2 linked regions of the Homo sapiens genome follow. The protein of the gene in region 1 interacts with the protein of each later gene in a pairwise test. Each region holds a gene or a part of one and is shown on either strand. Other genes may lie near its edges.

Region 1 (10,052 bases):
TTGTTGCATTGATTTTTTTTTTCTTTTTAGATAATTAAAACCCTGAAACCAAGGCAGAGTCAAGCATGAATAATGCAATTGCTACTCATCTTGTCCAAGATTGCCATTTTCACCGTCCCATCCTATTTAAAGAAAGAGAGAACTGAGATAAGTATCCCTGAGAAAGGCTTCAACTAAAGAGCTATGGACAGGGACACTCTGTCACTTCCTGGGATTTTGACCCCCAGCTGTCCAACAGAGGAGGGTCTGTGCCTTCGCTCATTAGCCTAACTTAGATGATAGGTGACAAACTGAAGTGAGCTATAGGGAGTTGTCCACTTCCAGGCTGCTATCAGTATACCAGCTGGGGTGTGGCAAAGTCCAGAGGTTCAAGCCTCGGTTTTTCATCCTGGGTGAGTTCATATGGCTTTCCTTTTCTAGTCCTAAGCCTGAGAAATTTCTCTCCAAAATCTTCTTTTAGAACACAGTCCAGATTGAACTGAAGTTGGGCAGAGTAAAAAATGTTTACTTCTGGTTGGGCACAGTGGCTCACACTTGTAATCCCAGCACTATGAGAGGCTGAGGTGGGTAGATCATTTGAGGTCAGGAGTTCAAGACCAGCCTGGCCAACATGGTGAAACCCCGTCTCTACTAAAAATACAAAAAATAGCTGGGTGTGGTGACGGGCGTCTGTAATCCCAGCTGCCTGGGAGGCCAAAGGAGGAGAATTGCTTGAGCCTAGGAGGCGGAGGTTGTAGTGAGCTGAGATCGCACCACTGCACATCAGCCTGGTGAGAGAGTGAGACCCTGTCTCAAAAAAAAAAAAGAAAAGAAAAGAAAAGAAAAGAAATGTTAACTTCTCGAAGCTTTTGGTATCAGTCTGAAGTTCAATCTTTCTGATTTTCCCAGTGCTCAGGAATTGCCCACCTCCCTCTCTCCCCCAGGATAAAATGACTGAGAATCAGGAGCAAAGTGGATAGAAGAAACAAAATTGTCAGACCTTTTAAAGAGGAGGGAAACCAAGTCCATTTACCCTAAGGCTTTTTAGTTGCAAATTTCTGCTGGAGAATAAGGAAAGGCCTTGTGTTTTGATATCTACACTTTTATTTGCTGTTAAATTACCATGATCCAATTACACACTGTATTTCCTAAATCTGGGTTTTGTTTAGGAACAGGTGTTAAAATGAACACTTACACACATCAAATGTTGTTGGACTGTAGGAATTCATATTATTTTATTAATACTATTCAGCCATAAAAAATGAAATCCTTTGCACCAAAAGGGATGGAACTGGAGGTCATTATGTTAAGTAAAATAAACCAGGCACAGACAGACAAATACCATATGATCTCATTCATGTGTGGGAACTTAAAAAGTTGATTTCATGGAGGTATGGAGTAGAATGATGGTTACCAGGGGCTGGAAAGGGAGGGGGAAGTGAAGAGAGGTTGGTTAATAAGTACAAACACACAGTTAGGTAGAAGGAGTGAGTTCCAGTGTTCAACAGTACAGTAGGGTGACTATAATTAACAACAATATATTATATATTTCAAAACAGCTGGAAGAGAATATTTGAAGTGTTCCCAACACCAATAAGTGATAATGGTGGCTCACGCCCATAATCCCAGCATTGTGGGAGGCCACGGCAGGAGGATCGCTTGAGCCTGGGAGTTTGAGACAAGCCTAGGCAACATCGTGAAACCTGGTCTCTACAAAAAAAATACAAAAAATTAGTCAGGCATGGTGGTGTGCACCTGTAGTCTCAGCTACTTGAGAGGCTGAGGTGGGGGGATCACCCGAGCCCAGAAGGTTGAGGCTGCAGTGAGCTGTGATTGTGCCACTGCACTCCTGCCTGGGTGACAGAGTGAGACCCTGTCTCAAAAAAATAAAAAGTAAATTGAAATAAAAAAATTAATTTAAAAATGTTTTTAAAAAGATAGATGTTTGAGGTGATGGGTACTCTAAATACCCTGATTTGATCATTACATATTGTATGCATATGTCAACATTTACATGTACCTCATAAATATGTACCATTATTAGCATCGATTAAAAATTTTAAAATAAATAAATTAGATAAGACTTTTAAAATAATGCTAAGTCCTTTTATCATTTATTCTTATAGTTTGCCATCTGAAACTCTTCAACTAGGAACTAGTTACATTAGAGAATGAGAGATCAGATATAAGGCCTCAAAACCTCACATGTGCCCAGGGCTTACGGAGGGCCCAGGAGCAATTTCTACATCTCTTTTTTGTCTACATGGGTTAATTTATTTGCTCCCTGAATTGTTATTATTAAAAGTAAACAAAAAGGAAAAAATGGCATGAGCAATTCCTAATGAAAATCAAATTAGCTTTAGTGAGCCCCTACCATTCCACCATTAAATGGATAAAATAGACAGACAGTACAAGAAAATCATGATTTTTATTTTTAATCTGACTAACCACAGTTCTTTAGCATCCTGTATGTGAAATTAGTATCATGGTTACTTTTCCCAGTTGGCCATTTGGCAGGGGATCTAAATAGAAAAACTAAGTATGGATGGCTATCTGATCATGGAATGTCAAGGAATGATGGATTTGACTTCACGGTAAAAAAATACAGACATTCAAGTTTCCCCAAATTCTTCCTATGTAGTCCACTGGGATAGTATATCTTTTCTGCAAGTAGAAAGCATTGAAACAAAGATCCCATAAACAACCACCTAAGCTGGGCACGGTGGCTCACGCCTGTAATCCCAGCACTTTGGGAGGCTGAAGAGGGCAGATCACCTGAGGTCAGGAGTTCGAGACCAGCCTGCCCAACATGGCGAAACCCCTGTCTCTACTAAAAATACAAAAAAATAGCAGGGTGTGGTGGTGGGCACCTGTAATCCCAGCTACTCAGGAGGCTGAGGCAGGAGAATTGCTTGAACCCGGGAGGTGGAGGTTGTAGTGAGCCGAGATTGCGCCATCACACTCCAACCTGGGCGACAAGAGCGAAACTCCGTCTCAAAAAAAAAAACCCACTTAAATGAAGTCATTGTCTTTTCACCCATTTAATCAGGCCTTCATTATAAGATATGTGGGTACAATTATTATTTTTGTGTTAGAGATAAGGATTCTGAAGTATAGAAAAGTTAAGTTACTGGCCAGGCATGGTGCCTCATGCCTGTAATCCCAGCACTTTGGGACCAACATGGCAAAACGGCATCTCTACTAAAAATACAAAAAATTAGCTGGGCGTGGTGGTGTGTGCCTGTAATTCCCGATACCTGAGAGGCTGAGGCACAAGAATTACTTAAAAAAAACCCCGAGAGGCCAAGGTTGCAGTGAGCCGAGATCATGCCACTGCACTCCAGCCTGGGCGACAGAGTGAGACTGTCTCCAAAAAAAAAAAAAAAAAGGAAGAAGAAAAGTTAAGTTACCTACTGAAGGCTCTTACTCCCAAGGCCACACTTTTAACCACTATGCAAAGTGCCTCTCCTTTTCTCTGACAAGATAGTGAAGAAATTAATAGTCCTCAGTCCTTTCATAAGATATAAAAAGAAAACAAAAATAGTACAGCTTTTAAATAACTCTTCACTGTAGCAGTTTTCACAAACAGGTCTACTTTTAGTATAAACCAGTATATATACCAGAATGTTCCAGGCAAGTGGTTTTAACTATTTCACACTTCCATTTCTCCATGTTACAATAAGACTACCAGTTTTTACCCCTTTCCTACTTCATATAAGTGTATGAAGTTGAGTAATATGATGTCATCAAACATACTTTGAGCTTCTTGGAAAAGTGATATGTAAACACAAAGTAGAGTGTTTATAAAAACAGTGTCAATGTGGTATGTATCCAATGTAAAATAGATCAAATTATTTTATTAGAGATTCGGACAAAAATAACTCTTTAATCTTATCTATTTTTTCATCATTTTGCATACTGCCTGTGTCTGTGGCTTTCAAGGGCAATCTGAAAGGGAACTAGGTCTGATACGTGTTGATTGGATTCGCAGTTTAGCATTCTCCTTATTGAGGAAATACTGCAGTACCCAAGATCTTGGCTGTTTCCAGGTTTTGGAAAAATCTCAGGTCAAAATTGTGTTGCCAGATGGGATTATTACATAGAGGAAAGTTGGCTGTGAATTTCCATATACCAAAGGCCATCCTAACTGTCTTTTATGAAGGACCCAACAGGCTTTTATTATAATTCAAAAATAGCCAGGTCACCCTAGGACTTTTTCCAGTGTTACCAAAACATCACTTTTACTGCCCAAACGGAAGTAGGCCATTACCTCACAGTAGAAAATAAAAGAAGCTAGCTTGAGACCAAGGTAGTTTTAAAAGGCATGAAGGATGAGAACCACCATTCTTATTTAGTGGCTCTGGACAGCGTCACTTGGAAACAGAACTGCCTCATGCACAGATAACAATGCCTGACACCCATTACACTTTACATGCACGTTCACATCTGCCTTTTGGATAAAGGGCAAGAAGAAAGGAACATTTACCATTGAGAAAGAATTAGAAGCCTTGTTAGTCTCCTTTTAAGACTTCTTCACATTCCACATGGATTAACTGTTAGGGAGAAAAACACTGCAAAAATAATCAGCAATGCATTTCGGAGGCTCATCAGCTCCCGGCTGACAGCTCACGTTAGTTGGATGAAGGCTGTGGATAGGCTTTTAGATGTGCTAACCTGTAATTTTGTTTCTAGAGTGGCCCAAAGTGGAAGGAGTTTTCACTCCCTCTCAATAAGCCCTCTTGTACGGTTGTGACCTCTGGCCTATCATAGGTTTTTGACGATAAAGGAGAGCCCGGGTTTTTGAGGTTAAGGGAGAGTTCCCTGACATCTTTGGGGTGAAGAAGAGATGGAGGGAGCAAAGCTGCCAAAGACCTCCTGTGACATTTCCACTAGTATCCACCTATAAGTAAGTGCTGGACTATGATTCCCTGGGGAGATCAGTGGCTCTAAAGACAGGCCCCTGGGCTCTTTCCTGGCTCTGACTCAGCTTCAAACCTGCCGTGCAACTGCTCAGAGTCTAAATGTCTTCATTTATGGAACTGAAATAATCCTGCTAAGATTACTTTCTTTGCTTCGTGATGTTTGCCTGAGAATAAGTAGCTGGGACTACAGGCGTGTGCCACCACGCCCATCTAATTTTTGTATTTTTTGCAGAGACAGGGTCTCACCTTGTTACCCAGGCTGGTCTCGAACTCCTGGGCTTAAGCAATCTGCCCACTTTGGCTTCCCAAAGTTCTGGGATTACAGGTGTGAACCATCACACTCGGCTAAAATGTTTTGAAAAATGGAAACATTGTACAAATGTGAGATGTTGTGCAACATGTCACTGAAACACGGTGGTATAAGAGAAGTTTTGGGAACCAGCAGACCAGAATTAGGCCTGAGAAAATCTTACAGTAAGCAGACCAGAATTAGGCCGTCTGAGAAAATCTTACAGTAAGCAGACCAGAATTAGGCCTGTCTGACAAAATCTTACAGTAAGCAGGCCATCTTCCCAGGCCTTCTCTTTTCTCCAGATAATGAAGAAGGCTTTTTAAAAGCAAAGCCAACTTGATTTGTTAATTGATCATCCAACTTCTTAACTGTCTTTTTCTCATGGTAAAATACCGAGAACATTGTGGGTGAGGAGCAAGTCGGGAGGTGGAACCCACCCCCGCACCCTGCCTCCAATAGATTGTATGTGTGGGTCGCTATTGCTGGGACCCACGAAGGCTGTGGATTGAGGACACAGGGTAGAAGTGGGATCTTCTGCAGGTCAGTGTCAGATGTGTCTGTGTGATGTAGTCATGGGAGAGGCGCGAGTCTTGGGCGGGTGTATCTTAGGGGTGTGGAAGTGTCTGCAAGGGCCTCCGTGGTATGTCATCACATTATTTATATCATGGGCATGACCCTGAACGTTCACCCGAGAGTGGTGAGAGAAAGGCCAGGATTTAAATCAGTCTTGACAGCGCAGATGAAGTTTGTTATTGTTTTCCGCCCTTCCCGAGGGACTTCGGAAATGGCCCCCTGAGAGGTGAATTCTTGGAAAGAATATGAGGGCGGTTAAGGCGTCTCTGTCTCAAACTCTCCGGATTTTTTGCAGCTACCAGGGACTGCGAGGGTCTGCGTCCTGGGTGGAAGGAAGCGGCGTCAGTCAACTTCCTCGCAGCGGCGGCAGCGGCGCGGGCTGCAGCGGAGCGCGCGGGTCTGCGCATCCCGCCCCCGGGTCGGGAAGGGGCGGAGCTGGGCGTCACCCGCCCCCGGCGGTCTCCTCCTCCCGGCCGCTCCCCCGAGCCGAGCCCGCCGCGGTCACAGCCACCCGCGGGAAGCTCGTGGCCGGGACCCCGAGGCGGGAGCGCGGGCTGGGCCGGGCTGGGCTACGCGCACGGGCTCGGCCGCCGCCCCTGCCGGTGAGTCCCGCCGCGGGAGGCGCGGAACGGGTCGAGTTGGGTATTGGGACCGCGAGGTCGGGGAGCCCCGGGGCCCGAGCTCGGGAGGCGGGGACGTCAGGATCGCGGCGTTGGGGAGTCCTCGCACCCCGAGCTCAGAGGGGAGGTCCAGAGTCGCAGCGTTGGGAACCTGAGGCCAGGGGCCGGAGTTTAGGGCCCCGATGTTGAGTCTCCGAATCCAAGCCCGGAAGGGGGGACGACGGGTTAGGATGCTGGGGAGCCCTGGAGCTCTGAACGGCTGTAGTGGGGTGGCCAGGACTGCGATGCTGGGGAGTCATGGAGCCTGAGCCTGGAGAGCTGGCGGGGGTGTGGGGACCGCGATGTTGGGAAGGCTGAGCCCGGAGGGCGGGAGATTCAGGACCAAGACGTGGGGGAGTCCGACAGGGCAGAACGAGGGGCGTCCTGTCCGCATTTGTGGGGCGCCCTCCGCAGGGCGGAGGGGAACGGAACCTGGGAGGGGAGTGCGGAGGAGAGGAAGCCCGGGGCGGTAGGGAGAGCCCGAGGAAGGGCAGCCCGAGGTAGGGGAACCCCGGAAAGAGTAGGGTGGGTCTAGGCATGTGCTTTCGCCGGGGAAAGATGGAGGGGGCTTCTCTGAGAGGGTGGGCGCGAGGAGCGGAGTTGTGATGGGAACCGCCGGCAGCTGGCTAATGGGCGGATGCTGGGGCTTGGCTGGATGGGAACGCCGCGGTGGGGTGTCGGAGGTGGCTGGTGGGGCTGGAACGCTGGGAACGTCTGTCTAGGCTATGAGAACGCAGCGCCCTCGGTGGAACAGGGTCGTAGATAACTCGAGAGGGAATCTAGTCTAGGGAGCAAGACCGGGCATCCCCAGACGGAGGCGGGTGGGGACCTCGCACTCAGCGCGCTTGGGGAATATTCGGAGCCTGGGTTTGGGGGCTGCTGCACCTTGCCGACCCGGTGCGGGGACCTGGAGGTAGCCGGGCACAGCAGCTTCCTGTGCAGCTGTGGGTGCTCCAGGCACTGGCAGACTAGTGGGAAGTCCAGGAGCCTTGGCAGGCTCATTGTCTTGACCTAAGTTGCATTCCATATTTCTTAGCTGGGTTAGAAATGATTTTGTCCAGGAACCCAATGAGAAGAGCCTGGGCTAAAAAAATTAGTTATGGAGTGAGATTTCAAATGTACAGGTAATACCTACCCGTGTGTGTGCGCGCCTTAGGGATAACTCATACAATACACTGTATGTGTGATTTTTAGACCCACGTGTGTACTACTTGTTCCAGTACTCTGAGAAGCTGTTTCTGGGTAAAAACGAGGAAAATCCACAACAAATACACACACCAAACAATGTCCACAAACGCACTGCATTCCAGTCGAGTTAAACATGAGAGTATTGTACAGTTTGGGAGTATTTGCTTGTCAGTGAAGACTCCTGTTACTGAAGTTAATAGGAGTTGCCTGCATGGAAGGTAGACTGCCCTTGACTGCCCTGTTAAGGTTATCCACAACGTGTACCCAGCCCTGAGCTGCTGCACCCTTGACCAGGTCAACTGGAAGGGAGCCAGACTGCTTAGGACCTCAGTGGATGAGTATCCAAGTGTGTATCTAAAAACAAAGGACCAAGGCATGGCTTTGTTTTTGTTTTTGTTTTTTATTTCTGCTGTTTGTCCTTGGGTGCGTGTCCTTCAATTATTAGTTAAATGTTGACTATCTTACATTAACCCATCTTGTATTGTTAATTATGTATGGTAATTATTTCAGTTATTTGGCGTAACAACCAATTCTGGAAGACCCAGAGTAGAGGAATCTTATTAAGTGGATATATCCATTGAAAGATATGTTTTTTTTTTTTTTTTTTTTGCGGGTGTGTGTATGCACCAGATTTCCTTCTGGTGCATATAGGTCCATCTTCTGACACACACTGAGATTTGAGCTTCATTGGATAAACAAGGATTATTTTGGCAACTAGCATTTGTTGGGTCTGTTTTTAATTCATGAAAAGGAAATCTTTAATAATTATGCAAGTTAACAGGATAGAAAGCGATTTATTCATTTTACAAGAATCATTTCAGGATAAGCATATTTCCATTAAGGGTGTGTGTATACCTTATTGAGTGGTCAGGACCTTGCATCAAAATCTGCACTATCATTCCTGCAGCAGTGTACTTATTCACTTGGACGTAACACTTGCTGATGCTTCCAATTCTTTATCCAAATGTTAAAATAAATATGCCAGTATTTATACATTCAAATCAGTATTTCTCCCCTTCAAAAGCCTGCTCTTGGCAAGCTGTGTACTAATTCTAGTGATGCTGTCACTACTGAGAATAATTTTGGAGCTCCTGCTTTGGAGTTGCCTTCCGAGTTTGCAACACATTTCCTGATTGCCTCAGTGGTGGCAAACCTTCCTCAGCTGGGAAACAGCCAGGCACTGTGCGGGGCCAACTTGGGCTTCCGAGGTGGGGAATCGAGGTTGTCAATAAGTATGCTCATTAAAGTAATGAAAATTCTCTTGAAAGACTGGCAGTTCTAAAAGGGGCATTTAGTAATGGCATGGAGTATGTATTTAGGATTGGAAGGAATTACAGTTGGTCCCTGAATAACACCGGGGTTAGGGGCTCCCATCATCTCCACAGTGGAAATTTTGAGTACAACATTTAACTCCTCAAAAACTTAACTACTTTGAAGCACAACCTTCATTTTGGTGTTTATGCTCTGGTATGTATGTAAAGTAATTGGTCCTGTCACTTTATTGTTATAGCTTATGGCTTATTGGGCTAGAAAAAGTAAGCCTTTCTTTGCCCCTCCTGATACTTGTTACTAGGCAGTCTCTGTCATTGTGGATTTTTACAGAAAGCAAAACAAAAATACAAAAGACTTGTTGTCTCACCAAAAAAAAAAAGGTACCCAGAAAGCCATTTGCCCCAGCTGTAGGTAATGCCTGGTGCTTGATTTTTGATGTGAAAGGATCCACAGAAGTAAAGGGAAGAGAATGATTTCTGAACATTCATTTCAACTTTGGGATTTCATGGCACACAGTAAAAAATGTACTGAACATATCCCTTTTTAAAATTCGCATTTTTTTTTTCAGGTTGTGTTGCATAAAGCTTCATACAGCCACAGCTTGAATCTTGATCTAGCTGTGGTTTGGGGCAAGTTGTTTCATCTCTTTTGGCCTCAGTTTTCTTAAAATGAAGATATTAATGAGTATGTACCTCATGGGGCTGTGATGAAGATGAAATAACATTGATGCGTGTAGAACACTTGAGTTCGGTGCCGGACACATCATGAGTGCTCAACAGAGTCTACTTATTCTTGTTAGGAATATTATTTATTGATAGTCTTATGTTAAAATTCCTTTGAAGCCATGTGGAAATTTATCATTTCCCAGGTAATGATATTCCCTTCAGTTAGGTTTTGCAACTAACTACAAATAGAACATTTTGGTTTTTGCCCTCCTGGTCTTTTAAGAGTTTTTAAAGGGTAACCTGAAAAGCAACGACAATTAGTTATTTTTTATTTATTCAGAAACGAGGAAATACAGACTCCAAATAAGTGGAGTCAGTGCTCCCAGTTACTTTCTTTTGAATTCAGATTTTTTTTTTAAATGAGCATTCCTGTTATGATTGTATATTATGTATAACAGTTTGGTGTGGTAAGGCAAATCTGAAAGAAAAAAGTTTAAAAGCC
Region 2 (9,331 bases), on another chromosome or scaffold:
GGCAGGCACATGGCCCTTCCACCTGCACAAAAATGGCTCACCATTCCTGCAGCTCAGGGGAAGGGATCAATCCTGCTGACTCCTTGGAGGAGCCTTCCACCCGTCCCTGCCACCAATTGCTGTCATCCTTGTTGATAATCTGGATAATGTCCCCAGTAGCAAACTTCAGTCCCGCCTCCTTGCAAGGGATCAGATTGTCCTTTTTGGGATCATAGTCAAACTGCGCTCTCATGAACATCTAAAAAGAAGGTAAAAGGAACTGCAGGCGGCAGCTTCAAAAGAAACACCAGCATCAGAGCATGTCCTGCTGTAGACAAATGGGGTCAGGATGGAATGAACAACAGGGAGGTAAGAATGGTGGGGGAGCACCCAAGAAAGAGAAATTGAAACGCTGAAGTGATTGTGTTTGCGGAGGGGTCAGAATGAATCCCTTTAACAAGAAGGCATGAGAAGCCAGGCGCAGTGGCTCACGCCTGTAATCCCAGCACTTTGGGAGGCCGAGGCGGGTGGAACACATGAGGCTAGGAGTTGGAGACCAGCCTGGCTAACATGGTGAAACTCCGTCTCTACTAAAAATACAAAAATTAGCTGGGTGTGGTGGCGTGCACCTGTAGTCCCAGCTACTCGGGAGGCTGAGGCGGGAGAATCGCTTGAACCCGGGAGGTGGAGCTTGCAGTGAGCCGAGATTGTGCCACTGCACTCCAGCCTGGGCGACAGAGTGAGACTCCGTCTCAAAAAAAAAAAAAAAAAAAAAAAAAAAGAAGGCATGAGATATCTTTCCACGTCAACGTGTCCACAGTTACTGCTGGATCTGGGTCGTCTGTCTCAGTACAGGGCAGCTACTCTTTGAACAACTGTTTTCACAATTGAAAATATGGACACTCATATCTATCAAAGAACTTGAATTTATTATTGAAAATTCTCCTCTCCTGCTCCCAAACACACACACACACACACACACACACACACACACACACACACACACCTACCTCATTACTTCATTGACAAATTTTCCAAGCATCATTTGAAGAAAGAAGGCTAATCTCATACGAAAACAGATTATAGAAAATGATGGCACTTCCCAACTCATTATAAGCATGATACCCAAATCTGACAAGAATCTTATAATTTCTCTCTGCAACAGAGATGTAAAAACCCCAAACAAAATATCAGCAAGTCAAATTTAGTTATGTATAAAAAGTATAATAAATCACAACCAAACAGGATCTAGTTCAGCAATATAAGAAGGTTTACTACCTGAAGGGCAATAAATTCACCACGTTAACATAAAAATGGAAAAAGATCATATGATCCCCTCAATAGATGCAGAAAAAGCCTGTGATAACATTCAAAACCCATTCAAGATTAAAATTCTTAGCAAACTTGGAATAGAAGGGAGGTTCTTTACTGTGAGAAAGAATACCTACAGAAACCCTACATCCAACGTCATACTTCTCAGTGAAAGATTAAAAGCTTTCCCTGCCTTTTTCAAAGGACATGGGTCTTGCTATGTTACCCAGGTTGGTCTCGAACTCCTGGGCTCAAGCAATCCACCCGCCTCGGCCTCCCAAAGTGCTAGGATTACAGGCGCATGCCACCACACCTGGCCAGCTTTCCCTTTAAGATGGAAAAATAAACAAAGATGTCTGCTATCATCACTTCCACTGGGATACTGTGAAGATGCCTCTTTTATCCAAACTGATATGTAGGTTTGACACAGGGATAAACAAACAGTCCAAAAGAAAAGAATAAAAAGTTCCAAAATAGACCTGTAAATATTACCATGACAAAAGTGACAGTGTACAGTAAATGATACTGGTTCAATTGGTATCCATATGGAAAAACTGGAATCTTGACCTCTTACCTTACAATGTATATAACAATCAATCCCAGATGGGTTGTGGATCCAAATGTGAAAAATCAAACAAGTAAGCATTTAGAAGAAAACACAGGAGAATATCTTGTTGACCTTGTGGTAAGTAAAAACTTTTAAAACAAGACATAAAAAGTGCTAATCAGAAAAAAGTGGTAGATTGGATTTCATTAAAATTAAGAGTTTCTAGTCATTAACAGGAACCATGAAGAAAATAAGCCACAGAAGAAGAGAACATACTTGGGATGCATATGACAAAGGACTCTTATCCAGAATATATGAGGAACTGCTACAAATCAGTAAGAAAAGCCTTGAATTGGTATCTTACAAAAGAGGATATCCAAGTGGAAAAAAACATATAAAAAGGAGTTTACCCTCATTAGTCATTAGAGAATTTTTAGAATCACAATGTGATACCACCATCAGGATGGCCAAAGGGTGAAAAAAAACCCAACAAATCAGACAATGCTAAGTATTGGTGAGAATACAGAACAACCAGAACTGTCATACTGTGCAGTTGGGGATGTAACATGGTTCACCAACTTTGGAATACTATTTGGCAATATCACCTAAAGATGAAGACACATATATCCTACAACCTGGCAATTCTACTCTCAAAAGAAAGGCATAGATGTATCCACAAAACACATGCACAAAAATCATATGATTTTTCTCCATTTTTCTGTTAACGTGGTGAATTTATTGCCCTTCAGGCAGTAAATCTTCTCATATTGCTGAATTAGATCCTGTTTGGTGAATGGCAGCCATTCAATGTAAGACCAAAAAAGCTGACAGAATAGATTAAATTGTAGCATGTTCATACAATGAATGAATGAGAATGAAGCAATATAGATGATTCCCATAAACATAATACTGAGCGAATAAAATAAGACACCAAAGAATTCATACTGTATAATTCAACGTTAATACATTTCAAAAGGGGGCAAAACTCATCCCTGCTGTTAGAAGTCAGGGTTATGGTGGGCCTTGAGGAAACACGCATGGTGAGGGGGCGGCGGTCTTAGGCATGGGTGTACTCAGTTTGTGAAAATTCATCCAGTTTTATACTTGTGATTTGTGCCCTTTGTTGAATATATGCCCATATATGCCAAAACTGCAATTTAAAAGTTTACTTAAGAAAATTATACCGTCACACTACAAGTAACCTGCAATAGAAACTTCAGATTTATTCTTTTAAATATCTCCTTCTTCCACATTGACTTGCCATGGCCCTGTCCAATCTATTCCTCTACTGGCTGATGAGCTATGTGTGAACTGGGAACCATTTCTCTTTATATCACCTCCATGTTCTAGCACAGTACTTTGTACATGGTAGACCCTCAATAAATTGTGAATAAGTGCTCAACAGATTCTATCTATCTTTTGTTTCTTTCTTTACTTTGCCACTATCAATCACGGGGCTTTATTATTGCTATTTTAAAAAGTATTTGCCAATTTGCTTGGTGAAAACTGGTGTCTCATGCATATTTTAATTTGCATTTCTTTGATGATCGGTAAGATAAAATATTTTTTCATATGTTCAATGCTCATTTGTAGTTTTCCTCCTGTGAATGATCTCTTCATTCCCTTTACCCATTTTCCTCTTGGAGCTGTATTGATTCCTTACCATCTGTAGAATAAAATTACCCTCTCCCTTCCTACCTGACCACTAGCAGCAAAGGCTCATTCATTCTCTACTCCTGTCGTCACTATGTTCTCCATTGAGGAAAGGGGAATGAGCTCCTGTATTTTATACCAGGCAGGGAATAATGGGACCCTGAGCCAAGCAGCTACACACTTGCGAGATACTTAGAACTTAAAGTTAGACTCACATCCCTTATAATCAAATTTCAAAGAATATAAGACAACATGGCCCGACTCCTGCCATCATGACAACAGAGAAAATGGTGCCACCCACCTGTAGTGCAGGAAGACGGCTTTGCTGGTTGGGAATTACTTTTAATGAGATCATTCCTTTGGTTTCTTTCTATTAAAAAAAATGGACATAAAATTGTACAGAAAACTAAGTTGAATGATGTGATCATTCATTCAAAGTCCCAGGTTTTTTTCCCCAACAACCATCTTTACATTTTGAGATTTTGTAGGACAATTCCTCCTTTAATACAAAAGTGTCATGTGCCCCATAAATCAGCATAACAATATGAAGACATGCAAAGAGTAACAAAGAAAAGCTAACTAAAGACTTTTCCGAGCTGGGCACGGTGGCTCACGCCTGTTGTAATCCCAGCTCTTTGGGAGGCTGAGGTGGGCGCATCGTCTGAGGTCAGGAGTTCAAGACTAGCCTGGCCAACATGGTGAAACCCTGTCTCTACTAAAAATACAAAAATTAGCCAGCGTGATGGTGGGTACCTGTAATCCCAGCTACTTGGGAGGTTGAGGCAGGAGAATCGCTTGAACCCAGGAGGCGGAGGTTGCAGTGAGCCGAGATCACGCCATTGTACTCCAGCCTGGGTGACAGAGCGAAACTCCATCTCAAAAAAAAAAAAAAAAGACTTTTCTTCCCCATTCTTTACCCCAAAAAGTCCTGAAGAAGTTCCTAAAAATGAACTATGGCGCATATATATCCACGCCTTTCCCCATACCAACAAAAGCATTACAAATATTTACATACATTATGCATACATATGTATTGTTTGTTTTTAACAAAAATGGGATTCTACTATATACGTTATAGCTTGCTTTACTTCATTTGGCATTACTTCATGGAACACCAGATTGATGCTCTGGGTTATTTGCCCTGCTTTAGAATTTTACTAAATAAAGGCAGAAAATTATCATTTCTTACACAGATTAAAGACTAGCAGTGAAAAGAGCCCCCTCAAGAAGGTACAAATACTTTGACAGAGAGATGAGGTCACTGATACCAATGTGGATCAACACTTATGGAGACAATGGAAGGTCTTCATCTAGCATAGAAAATACCCACCATCGCCTTCTGCAGCTGATCCACTGAATGATTTGTCACATTTGTGCCATTGATTTCTAGGATCTCATCCCCCACGTGAAGGGAGCCTGCCATGAAATGAAAAATCAATCCACAAAAGAACAAAAGTTCAAACAGGAGCTGTCAATGTAACTCAAGATACCATAGAAGAGAAACCAGGATTTACAGCATGTTATGAAACAGATTGTGTCAAATACTCAGGATTGAAAACATTTGACTTGACAGTTTAAGATGGTCTCATCCTCCTTGGCCTCAGTAGTCCAACAGCACAATAAAACACCTTGTCCTCAAATTCCTGGAACTAGAGTGGCTACTGACTCCAGACTATGACACAGATGTATACACTAAAAAGAATAACAAAGCAAGGCAAAGAACTCAGTACTCCTCTTTCACCAGCAAGCTCCATGTTTCTTTGTTGTTTAGCTCAAACCCCAAAATGCTACCAAGTGGTACTGCTGTCCTTTCCAAGTCTAATGCAATGGGTGGCATGTGGCAATTGCTCAAATATTAACTTACTAGAAAAATATTGGTATAAATAGGTGTGAAAGAAGGCTCAGATAGGGAGATGGTGGCACTGGGCAATTCACATAGAGATCTTATCATGTACTGATTCTACAGAGCCAGTTATTAAGCCACAAAAAGTCTCTTGGCACACTCACAAAAATGCTACCAGTTTGGAGGATTATAAGCTTCATGCCCCACACCACTGAACAGGGAGTAAATTATTAATCCCTGAATCAAACCCCACCCAGAGCTCCCACAGAGTACCTTGTCTATGGATCATGCCACCATGAAGAATTCTGGCCACCGTACAGGACTGTTTTTCATTCAGCTTCAGCGTGATTCCCTGAAATAAAGGCGACGGCACAATAAGCTTTATTTTAAGCTCTTTCTGAGGTTATTTTAGAAAGAACTTACGGTAATTTCTCAGGAAAATATTTTCCATTTATACCCAGGATAGTCCTCAACTAGAACAGGCATGAAGCCTGCTTTGAGGAGGAATTTGAGATAAGAATGAAAAGACAATTTTGGGGTTGGCCAATTCCCTAACTCCATGAGCAGCCTCTTGCATTGACTCTTCTGGCCCAGTGACTCATGGGGCAGAGAGTAACTGGTGGGCGACAATATGACGGGGGATTACCATGGGCTCTTCTGTGACCTTCTCAAACTGTATGAGTCGCACTTTCCGCACCTCCTGTCCCTTGACCTGGGCAGGGCTACCTGGGGCAGGAGACCCGTTGGTGTACATGTCCTCGGTCACAGTATTCAATGGATGCGATACAGCCTGCCAAGCCAAAACAACAAAGCAACGTATGAAATCAGGAGCAAGGCCCACAGCCAGTCCACAATCTGCAATTCTAACATTCAAGAGGCTCTGAAAACTTATTTCATAAGTTTGGCCTCATTCTTATTTGAATTGACATGAAGCTGTTTGTAAGCTTTATTTCTCCAACTTAATAGACATGTCAGCCAAGTGTGGTGGTGTGCACCTGTAGTCCCAGCTACAGTCCCAGGGCAACAGAGTGAGACCCTGTCTCTAAAAATAAATAAAATAGACATGTTTATCTAGGTTGCTGCAGAAATATTAATGTGCCTTGATTTACATGGTGCTCTCCTGGATCCTGCTTGGGGTATTACATAATATATAACAAAATTAGAAAGATTCTGAATCCTGCGGCACCTCAGGCTCCAAGGGTTTCTGGCATGTTCTCTTCTCCTTTGTATTTCCTTGAACAACCTGATGCTCTCGGTCACACAGCAATAAAGGTAATTCAGGTTAGCATCAGTTTCTCATGAATCACCCCTTAGGCTACAAAGAACTTCTACCTGTAGAATTAGGCACTTAGGACTGGGCCCCGAACCGCGGTGATAACAATAATACATTGCCACTGTGACTTCTTCCCCTGATCTCAAAGACAGCAAAGCTAAATGAGTTACTCTACCAGGCAGCAAGGCCTCTTTATTATAAATCTAAAGTAATTTAAGGCACTGTGGTAAGAAGAAAGACAAACGACCCATGTAATGGAACAGAGAGTGCAAAAACAGAGCCACACATTTATAGTCAGGTGACACTGCAGTGCAGCGGGGAAAAATGGTCTGCACGATAAATGTCATAAAAGGTCCCGAGTATAAAATGAAAACTAAAAAGACAAACACTTTAAAAGTAAGAAGTCTATTCATCAAAAAACTCCACTGAGATAAGCATAGATTTAGTAGACGAGACACGGAGCAATCATCATACAAGCAAACAACTGACTTCATCAAATTCAAACATCTTACATAAGAAACTAGACAGGTATGACACAGCCTGAGAATAAACATTTGCAATATTTACATCTGACAAAGGATTTGTATCCAGAACATATAAAGAACTCTTACAATTTAATAACAGGATGAAAAGAACCATAAACAAATCCTGAACTTGAGCCAATGATATGCATGCTGAAGCTTTCAGGGGTAAAGTGCTCTGATATCTGAAACTTATTTTGAAATACCAGGAAAAAGAAGGTGGATAGATGGGCAGTTTTTGGATAGAAATGTGATAAAGCAAACACAGCAACATGTTAACTGTAGAATCTAGGAGGTGTGGCTATATGGGTGTCACTATAAAATTCTTTCATCTTTTTGGCGCCATTCCAAGAGCAGCCAGTACTCTTTAAAAAATATTATAAAATTTAATTTTTGAACCATTTGAGAGTAATCTGAAGACTTCATTCTCCTTTACCCATAGATGTCTCTATATGTTAGGAACGAGCATTTTCAAAACTGAAAATTTAACATTGACACAATATTGTCATCTGCCAACCCTTTCAAGAATGTCCTTTATAGCTATATATTTCTTCCCCAGTCCAGAATCCAACCTAGGACTTTTTGGTCCCAGAATCCAATCTAAGACCAGAATCCAATCATGCATTTCACATTTCCTTACTCTTCCTTAATTTGGAAAATTTCCTCAGCCTTTCTTTTTCTTCTTTCATGACCTTGACATTCTTGAAGAGTACACACCTGTTATTTTGTAGATGTCTCTCAGTTTGGGGTTATCATCTGATGTTTTTTCAAGATTAGACTGGGATTTTGCATTTTTGGCAGGAATTCCAGGAAAGTAGTGGTGTGCCCTTTCCAGAACAACACTACTCTTAAAAGCCCAAACCTGAAAATAGCCCAAAAGTCCATCAACAGTAGAATGGATAAACTGAAGCATATCCAAGTGGATACCCTACATCAATGGCAATGAATGGCTACTGCTACACCACTCCATGGTAGATCACCTGTGGATCAGTCTCACAGGTGATCACTCTCTTCTCCTTAAAATGCTCCTTCTCAGTTTGCTTTGCTGTTCTTTCCTCATCTTACTGATCTGGGTAAGAGCAATCACAATGGGGAAAAACTATGGAAACCTCTGAAAATGCTCCCTGCCCACCCCAGATAAAATATTAAATCAAAAATGATATAGCCACCTGGAGGAGGAGGAGGAGGACGAGGAGGAGGAATAGGCCTGAAGTGGGCTTATGGAAGGGTCTGCTGAAAATAGGGGATAGCTGCATTCCAGTCACACCCAGAGGTGACCCTCAAAGACAGTAGGGAGGGAAGATCTTCCCAATAGGCAGAACTGTGAGGAGTGTGCCATTCACTGTGTGGGGAAGGAGAAGGGTCCCTAGATGGGAATAGATGGTATGCCTGAGCAGTGTCCACTGGCCTGCCCAAGGCCTAGAAAAGGACTAGAAGATGAGAGAGAAGGAAGTCTGGAGTAGAGGCTTACATCATTTCTAAGGGACTCTGATTTCTAAGTAGAAACTTTGATAAGATGGTGAGGTTTGGGCCAGGTGCAGTGGCTAACACCTGTAATCCCAGCACTTTGGGAGGCCAAGGTGGGGAGATCGCTTAAGCCCAGGAGTTTGAGACCAGCCTGGGCAACATGGTGAAACTCCTGCCTCTGTAAGAAATTTTAAAATTAGCTGAGTGTGGTGGTGCAAGCCTGTGGTCCCAGCTACTCAGGAGGCTGAGGCAGGGGGATTGCTTGAGCTCAGGAGTTGGAGGCAGCAGTGAGCCATGATCACACCACTACACTCCAACCTGGGCAACAGAGGAAGACCCTGTCTCAGAAAAACAAACAAACAAACAAACAAACAAAAAACATGGTGAGGTTTGAAGTAGTATTCGCTATCAGGTGACCTCAAATGAGGGAAGTACTGAGAAAGAGAAACTGCCTTCTCTAGCAACTAGAACTTCAAAAAACTCACATGACACCAAGTCATATGGCATTGCTGTTATAACAAAATTGTCTAAGATAGGCTTATATTTAAAAAATTGACTTATGATACCCGGGATACACCATGTAGGTAGGAAAAGGAGGTTCTGAGGGTGATCTTGAAGATTTATTGTTAAGCAAAAAATAATAATAATGTGATGAAGGGTATACTAGCTTCATCATAAACAGTGAAAGAATGATTATATTCATATTTGCTTAAAAATCCATAAACTGGCCAGGTTCA

Evidence for each region.
Region 2: the proteins of PAQR8 (region 1) and MPP1 interact in binary tests that used the Homo sapiens proteins (3 or more experiments, as listed by UniProt).

What each region holds. Positions count from the first base shown.
Region 1 is NC_000006.12:52,355,882-52,365,933, forward strand, and holds the start of PAQR8 (membrane progestin receptor beta), read left to right. Parts: upstream 1-6,269; 5' UTR 6,270-6,368; intron 6,369-10,052. UniProt on the Homo sapiens protein: Plasma membrane progesterone (P4) receptor coupled to G proteins. Seems to act through a G(i) mediated pathway. May be involved in oocyte maturation. Also binds dehydroepiandrosterone (DHEA), pregnanolone, pregnenolone and allopregnanolone.
Region 2 is NC_000023.11:154,786,163-154,795,493, forward strand, and holds part of MPP1 (55 kDa erythrocyte membrane protein), read right to left. Parts: intron 6,124-9,331; coding exon 5,980-6,123; intron 5,686-5,979; coding exon 5,607-5,685; intron 4,907-5,606; coding exon 4,821-4,906; intron 3,861-4,820; coding exon 3,792-3,860; intron 239-3,791; coding exon 42-238; intron 1-41. UniProt on the Homo sapiens protein: Essential regulator of neutrophil polarity. Regulates neutrophil polarization by regulating AKT1 phosphorylation through a mechanism that is independent of PIK3CG activity.